Homo sapiens: one gene and its partner. The protein of the gene in region 1 interacts with the protein of each later gene in a biochemical or structural test. Each region holds a gene or a part of one and is shown in the gene's direction. Other genes may lie near its edges.

Region 1 (2,686 bases):
ATCCCACCGGGCAGAGAACCAGGGATCCCCTGGAACCCTGGGCTTGTGTTTGGCCTTGGGCAGGGCCCCCCACCTTCTCTGGAGCTCAGTGACCTCACCCGTTGAAGGCCTGGGCCGCCACACCCTGTCCCCTCTGCCTCTATCCTGCACACCTGTGGATGGTGGTCCAGTTTGGACTGGCTGGTTTCTTCTCTTCCCTTGCCCCAAAACCCACTCCAGCCCCCTGCAGGGAGGAAGTGGATGAGGAGCTCTGGGGTGGGGGTGAGGCCTTGTTCAGGGCTGGCCCACCTGGCTCCACTCTGGGACTCTTAGCAAGTCCTTCCTATCTCTGGATGTCCTTGGTCTCCGATATAAAATGAGGGTCCTGAACTCGGTGACCCTATGCTCCTCCTGTCCTGACAGTCCGCGGTGCCCCTGGAGCCATTTCAGGCAGTGGGACAGAACAGGGGGAATACATTTAGCAAAGAAAGGCCTCCCTGAAAACTCTATTTACAGAGCAGAAGGTGTGCCTGGCCCCAGAACCCCAAGCCTTTCTCCTGGAGCCCTGGCTGCTGGGATGCTGCGGGAGGGGGCAAAGAGGGTCTGGGCCTCCCAGCTCTGAAGGGCCAGCATTACGTTAGAGGCCGTGCCTGCATGACCTGTCGGGTCTCCAGCATGATATCTCATTGGCCCAATTTTCTCATTTTCTTTTTTTTTCGAGACGAAGTCTCACTTTGTTGCCCAGGCTGGAGTGCAGTGGCACGATCTCGGCTCACTGCAACCTCTGCCTCCCAGGTTCAAGCGATCCTCCTGCCTCAGCCCCCCAGTAGCTGGGATTACAGGCACACGCCACCATGCCCGGCCTAATTTTTGTATTTTCAGTAGAGACGGGGTTTCTTCATGTTGGTCAGGCTGGTCTCAAACTCCCAACCTCAGGTGATCCACCCGCCTCGGCCTCCCAAAGTGCTGGGATTACAGGCGTGAGCCACCGCACCCAGTCAGCCCCATTTTCAAGATGAGGAAACTGAGGTTCAGAGTAGTCAACAGCTCGCCCAAGTCACACAGTGGATCTAGGACTTCAACCCAGGACTGTAGGAGCCAGGGAGCTCTTTGAGAACCAGGGGAATAGGGAGAAGAACTCGGAGTCAGGGTGGGTGACCGCGGGGGAGGAGGTGGGGGCAGGGCTCACTCTCCCTGGGCCCGGAGAGGGAGTTTCTCTTGGGAAGAGGCAGGCTCTGAGGCTGTTGATCTCTAAATTATAGCGTTGGCGCGTACCGGTTGCTGCGGCAACCGAGTTGTCCTGAACCGGGGAAGTGTATAAACATTGCCACAGATGCACAATTAGATCAGGAAGAAGAATAGAACAGAAAATAGAAACTTCCAGCCTTATGTAATTCTGGGCCAAAATGTTATTGGGAACCCAGGCCCAGTCCTGGCCCTGCCAGCTGCTGGGGCCTGGGGCAGCAGCATGTCTTCCCTGGGGACGCAATGGCAGAGAGGGGTGGAGAGAAGGTCTGTCCTCTACGGGCCCGAGGCGCATCCCGCCACCCAGTGGGGTGAGGGGCCTCTTCTGCTGCAACAGCTGGGGATGCTTGACAGGCAAATCCTGCCTGTCACCAGCTCCTGGGAAGTGTGGGAAGGAAGGCAGGAGGGTGATGGCTTTACCCCAGCACCTGCTGTCCCCGTAGGTCCCATGAGGTAGGGAGTTTTGGTGCCCATGTTACATGAAGACATGGAGGCTCTGAGAGGTGAACTGAATTGCCCGAGGTGTGTCCTCCCCTCCCACTCCCTGTCTCCCCGCCATCAACTCATTCATGTTGGTGCCACGCAAGTTTGTATCCACTGCCAGCTTTGTGGCTGGCAGGTGGCTTTCCATCTCTGAGCCACCTGGGACATGGGAATAGCGATGTCTACAGAGGAGTCAGAGCTGGGGGCTCCCCCTTCCTCCACCCTGACTGTCACATTGGATTCTCCCCTCACCACTGCTCCTAACAAGTGTGGGCACTGGGCAGGAATTTGGGCTCAAGGACTCAAAGCAACACTGGGAGAGAAGAGTCTAAGAAAGGAGCTCAGACCCAGGTGGGGCTGCGGGTCCCAGTAGAACTTTTTCTTTCTTTTTTTTTTTTTTTTTTTTTTTGACATGGGGTCTTGCTCTGTGACCCAGGTTGGAGTTCAGTGGCATGATCACAGCTCACTGCAGCCTTGACCCCCTGGGCTCAATAGATCCTCCTGCCTTAGCCTCCTGAGTAGCTGGTACCAGAGGCATGCACCACCATGCCTGGCTAATTTTCTTATTTTTTGTAGAGATGGGGTCTCACTCTGTTGCCCAGGCTGGTCTCAAACTCCTGGCACAAACAATCTTTGCATCTCGGCCTCCTAAAATGCTGAGATCACAGGCATGAGCCCCTGTGCCCAGCCAGAAATTTCTCAGTGATAGAACTCTCCTGTGTCTTCTCTGTCCAGTGTGGTGGCCGTTGACCACATGTGGCTCCTGATCACTTGAAATGTGGCTCATGCAAGGAAGGAGCTGCAGTTAATATTTTATTTCGTTTTAATTAAATGTAAAGAGCCACACGTGGCCAGTGGCTAGTGCACAGGAGGATGTCCAGCCCCCGAGAAGCCCAAAAGTGCAGAGATGGAATCCAGGGAGGGAAGCGGGCTTAGCGCCTCCGTGGCTCCCTATGCTCAGGGCAAGCAGGACAGAGGG
Region 2 (3,500 bases), on another chromosome or scaffold:
TGCCCTGCCCTAAAGGATGGTATCTTTCTGGATTCTTCCCCTGAAAGTCTGTTTCTAGTGACTCCTAGTGTTTGATTTCCAAATTGCTTTCAGCTGATTATTTCCAGTGTCTTCAAAAAGTTATCTGTTTCTTTTTTTTTTTTTCAGACAGAGTCTCGCTCTGTCACCCAGGCTGGAGTGCAGTGGCGCAATCTCGGCTCACTGCAACCTCCGCCTCCCAGGTTCAGGTGATTCTCCTGCCTTAGCCTCCCGAGTAGCTGGGATTACAGGTGCCCGCCACCACACCCAGCTAATGTTTGTATTTTTAGAAAAGACGGGTTTCTCCATGTTGGCCAGGCTGGTCTCGAACTCCTGACCTCAGGTGATCCCCCCCGCTCGGCCTCCCAACGTGCTGGGATTACAGGCGTGCACCACCACACCTTGCTAATTTTTTGTATTTTTAGTAGAGACGGGGTTTCTCCATCTTGGTCAGGCTGGTCTCGAACTCCCGACCTCAGGTGATCCATCCGCCTCGGCCTCCCAAAGTGCTGGGATTACAGGCATGAGCCACCACACCCGGCCGACATTAAGTTCTTTCTAGGAATTGTGTGTTTCTAATCTACCTCTAGATGACTGTTTTCTTTTCTCTTTTCTTTTCTCTTCTCTTTTTTCTTTTCTTTTCTTTCTTTTTGATATGGAGTGTCGCTCTGTCACCCAGGCTGGAGTGCAGTGGCGGGATCTTGGCTCACTGCAACCTCCACCTCCCGGGTTCAAGTGATTCTCCTGTCTCAGTCTCCTGAGTAGCTGGGACCACAGGCGCCCACCACCACGCCCTGCTAATTTTTGTATTTTTAGTAGAGACAGGGTTTCACCATGATGGCCAGGCTGGTCTTGAACTCCTGACCTCAACTGATCTGTCTGCCTCTGCCTCCCAAAGTGCTGGCATTACAGGCGTGAGCCACCGCGCCCCACTCTAGATATCTGTTTCTAGTTATCTCCCAGAAGATTGTGTGTTTCTAGTATCTTTTAAGTATCTGATACTCCCTCTTCTCCAGTTAGAGTTGTTTATAATGTCACCCTCACATCTGTTCCTAGTATCCCCTGAGACATTTCCACTTTTGGTAAGAAAGGAGAGTCAACCTGTTTCTCATTTTCCCCAGTGTCTCCCACCCCTCTTAGAACATTTTCTGTTTCTAGAATTCGGTGCTCAGTTCTTGGTGTGGTCTCCACTCACAGCAGGAATCCAATTCAACACTTTCCTTAGGGAGTGGCTGTTTTTAGCAACCTCTGGGGGAATTGTCTGTTTCAAGTTCCCCCACACCAGGCTGTTTCTACTGTCTCCCATCTCTCATTAACTCACTTCCGCTCTTTCATTCCTGGTCCCTTTCAGATCAACGGGGTGTCTAGCCAGAACCTGTCACTGAACGACACCCGGCGACTGATTGAGAAGTCAGAAGGGAAGCTAAGCCTGCTGGTGCTGAGAGATCGTGGGCAGTTCCTGGTGAACATTCCGCCTGCTGTCAGTGACAGCGACAGCTCGCCATTGGAGGGTGAGGACCTAGAGGTTAGGACCTGGGAGGGGGTTGAATGGATGGCAGGGAAGGTGGGAAGCCCCAGGCAGGGCCAAGGAATCAATGAGCCTGGTCCCTAGAGGCTCAGAGAGTGACAGGAACTTGCTGAAGGCCACACAGCAAGTCAAGAGTTCAGGGGGGCGATCTCGGCTCACTGGGTTCAAGCGATTCTCTGCCTCCTGGGTTCGAGCGATTCTCGTGCCTTGGCCTCCTGAGTAGCTGGGATTATAGGCGTGAGCCACCGTGCCCAGCTCCAGAGCCGAATCTTCTAACTGAGCTTCTGACTTTGGTCTAGGGCCCTTTGTTTAGAGGGGTGTTGATATACCCCTCTGTAAAATGGGTCCAGTCCAGAAGGCGTGACCATGGCTGATGAGATGTCCTCTCCCCCTGCAGACATCTCGGACCTCGCCTCGGAGCTATCGCAGGCACCACCATCCCACATCCCACCACCACCCCGGCATGCTCAGCGGAGCCCCGAGGCCAGCCAGACCGACTCTCCCGTGTAAGTATCACCCATCGGCCAGAATGGTGATAGGGAGGGAGAGGGAGGTGGGAGGGAGAGGGGAACGCGGGCGTAGCTTTCCAACTGGGGGTAACCTTGAGGACGCAGTCCTGTATTTCTAGCATGTGCCTCAAAATACCTCCAGCCTCTACCCATTACCCAGTTCCAAAGCCGTGTCCGCATTTGTAGGTGTTGGTTACAGCAGCACCCCACTTCTTAGTATCAAACTCTGCCTTAGGCCAGGTGCGGTGGCTCACGCCTGTAATCTCAGCACTTTGGGAGGCCGAGGAGGGTGGATCATCTGAGGTTAGGAGTTCGAGAACAGCCTGGCCAACGTGGTGAAACCCTGTCTCTACTAAGATACCAAAATTAGCCCGGCGTGGTGCCGGGTGCCTGTAAGCTCAGCTACTTGGGAGGCTGAGGCAGGAGAATCACTTGAACCCAGGAAATGGAGGTTGCAGTGAGCCGAGATCGTGTCATTACACTGCAGCCTAGGCAACCAGAGCAAAACTCTGTCTTAAAAAAAAAAATTTCTTTTTCCTCTATTTATTTATTTGTTTTGAGACTGAGTCATGTGAGACTGGCTAATTTTCATATTTTTGGTAGAGATGGGGTCTGTATTGCCCAGCTATGTTGCCCAGGCTGGTCTTGAACTCCTGGGCTCAAGCATTTGGCCTGCCTCAGCCTCCCAAAGTGCTGGTATTACAGGCGTGAGCCACCACGCCCAGCCCAGATAAATTAAAATTATTTTTATTTTGTTTATTTATTTATTTATTTTTTTGGAGACAAGGTCTCACTCTGTCGCCCAGGCTGGAGTGCAGTGGCATGATCTTGGCTCACTGCAACCTCTGCCTCCCGGGTTCAAGCAATTCTCCTGCCTTAGCCTCCTGAGTAGCTGGGATTACAGGCGCCCACCATCATGCCCGGCTAATTTTTGTATTTTTGGAGAGACGGGGTTTAACCTCGTTGGCCAGGCTGGTCTTGAAATCCTGACCTCAGGTGATCTGCCCACCTCGACCTCCCAAAATGCTAGGATTACAGGCATGAACCACCGTGCCCGGCCTAAAATTCTTTTTAAAATGGCCCCTTGAAATCCATCCCTGCCTCACTCCCAATCTGTTCCCCACCAGGGAGAGTCCCCGGCTTCGGCGGGAAAGTTCAGTAGATTCCAGAACCATCTCGGAACCAGATGAGCAACGGTCAGGTGGGTGGTGACTCTGAGCACCCCTGTCCCTGACATTTCTGATCCCTGACAGCAAGGCTGTGCCAGGCAGAGCTGGGGGAGGTTGGCCTGAGCCTAAGTGGTGAGACATGGTTTCCTGAGAAGGACTCGAGGTGGGTGACAGTCCTTCCAGGATGAGGACATAAAGCAAAGGTTTGGAGGCTGGACTGAGCCAGTGTGCTTGGGAAAGAGACTGGCTTTTCCCTTTCAGAGTTGCCCAGGGAAA

What was found. The genes of interacting proteins can lie anywhere in the genome.
Region 2: the proteins of KCNJ4 (region 1) and TJP3 interact in a test that uses a peptide from one of them, tested with the Homo sapiens proteins (one large-scale study listed by IntAct).

Annotation. Positions count from the first base shown.
Region 1 is NC_000022.11:38,428,514-38,431,199, reverse strand, and holds part of KCNJ4 (inward rectifier potassium channel 4), read left to right. Parts: intron 1-2,686. UniProt on the Homo sapiens protein: Inward rectifier potassium channels are characterized by a greater tendency to allow potassium to flow into the cell rather than out of it.
Region 2 is NC_000019.10:3,732,384-3,735,883, forward strand, and holds part of TJP3 (tight junction protein ZO-3), read left to right. Parts: intron 1-1,369; coding exon 1,370-1,529; intron 1,530-1,943; coding exon 1,944-2,052; intron 2,053-3,182; coding exon 3,183-3,256; intron 3,257-3,485; coding exon 3,486-3,500. UniProt on the Homo sapiens protein: TJP1, TJP2, and TJP3 are closely related scaffolding proteins that link tight junction (TJ) transmembrane proteins such as claudins, junctional adhesion molecules, and occludin to the actin cytoskeleton.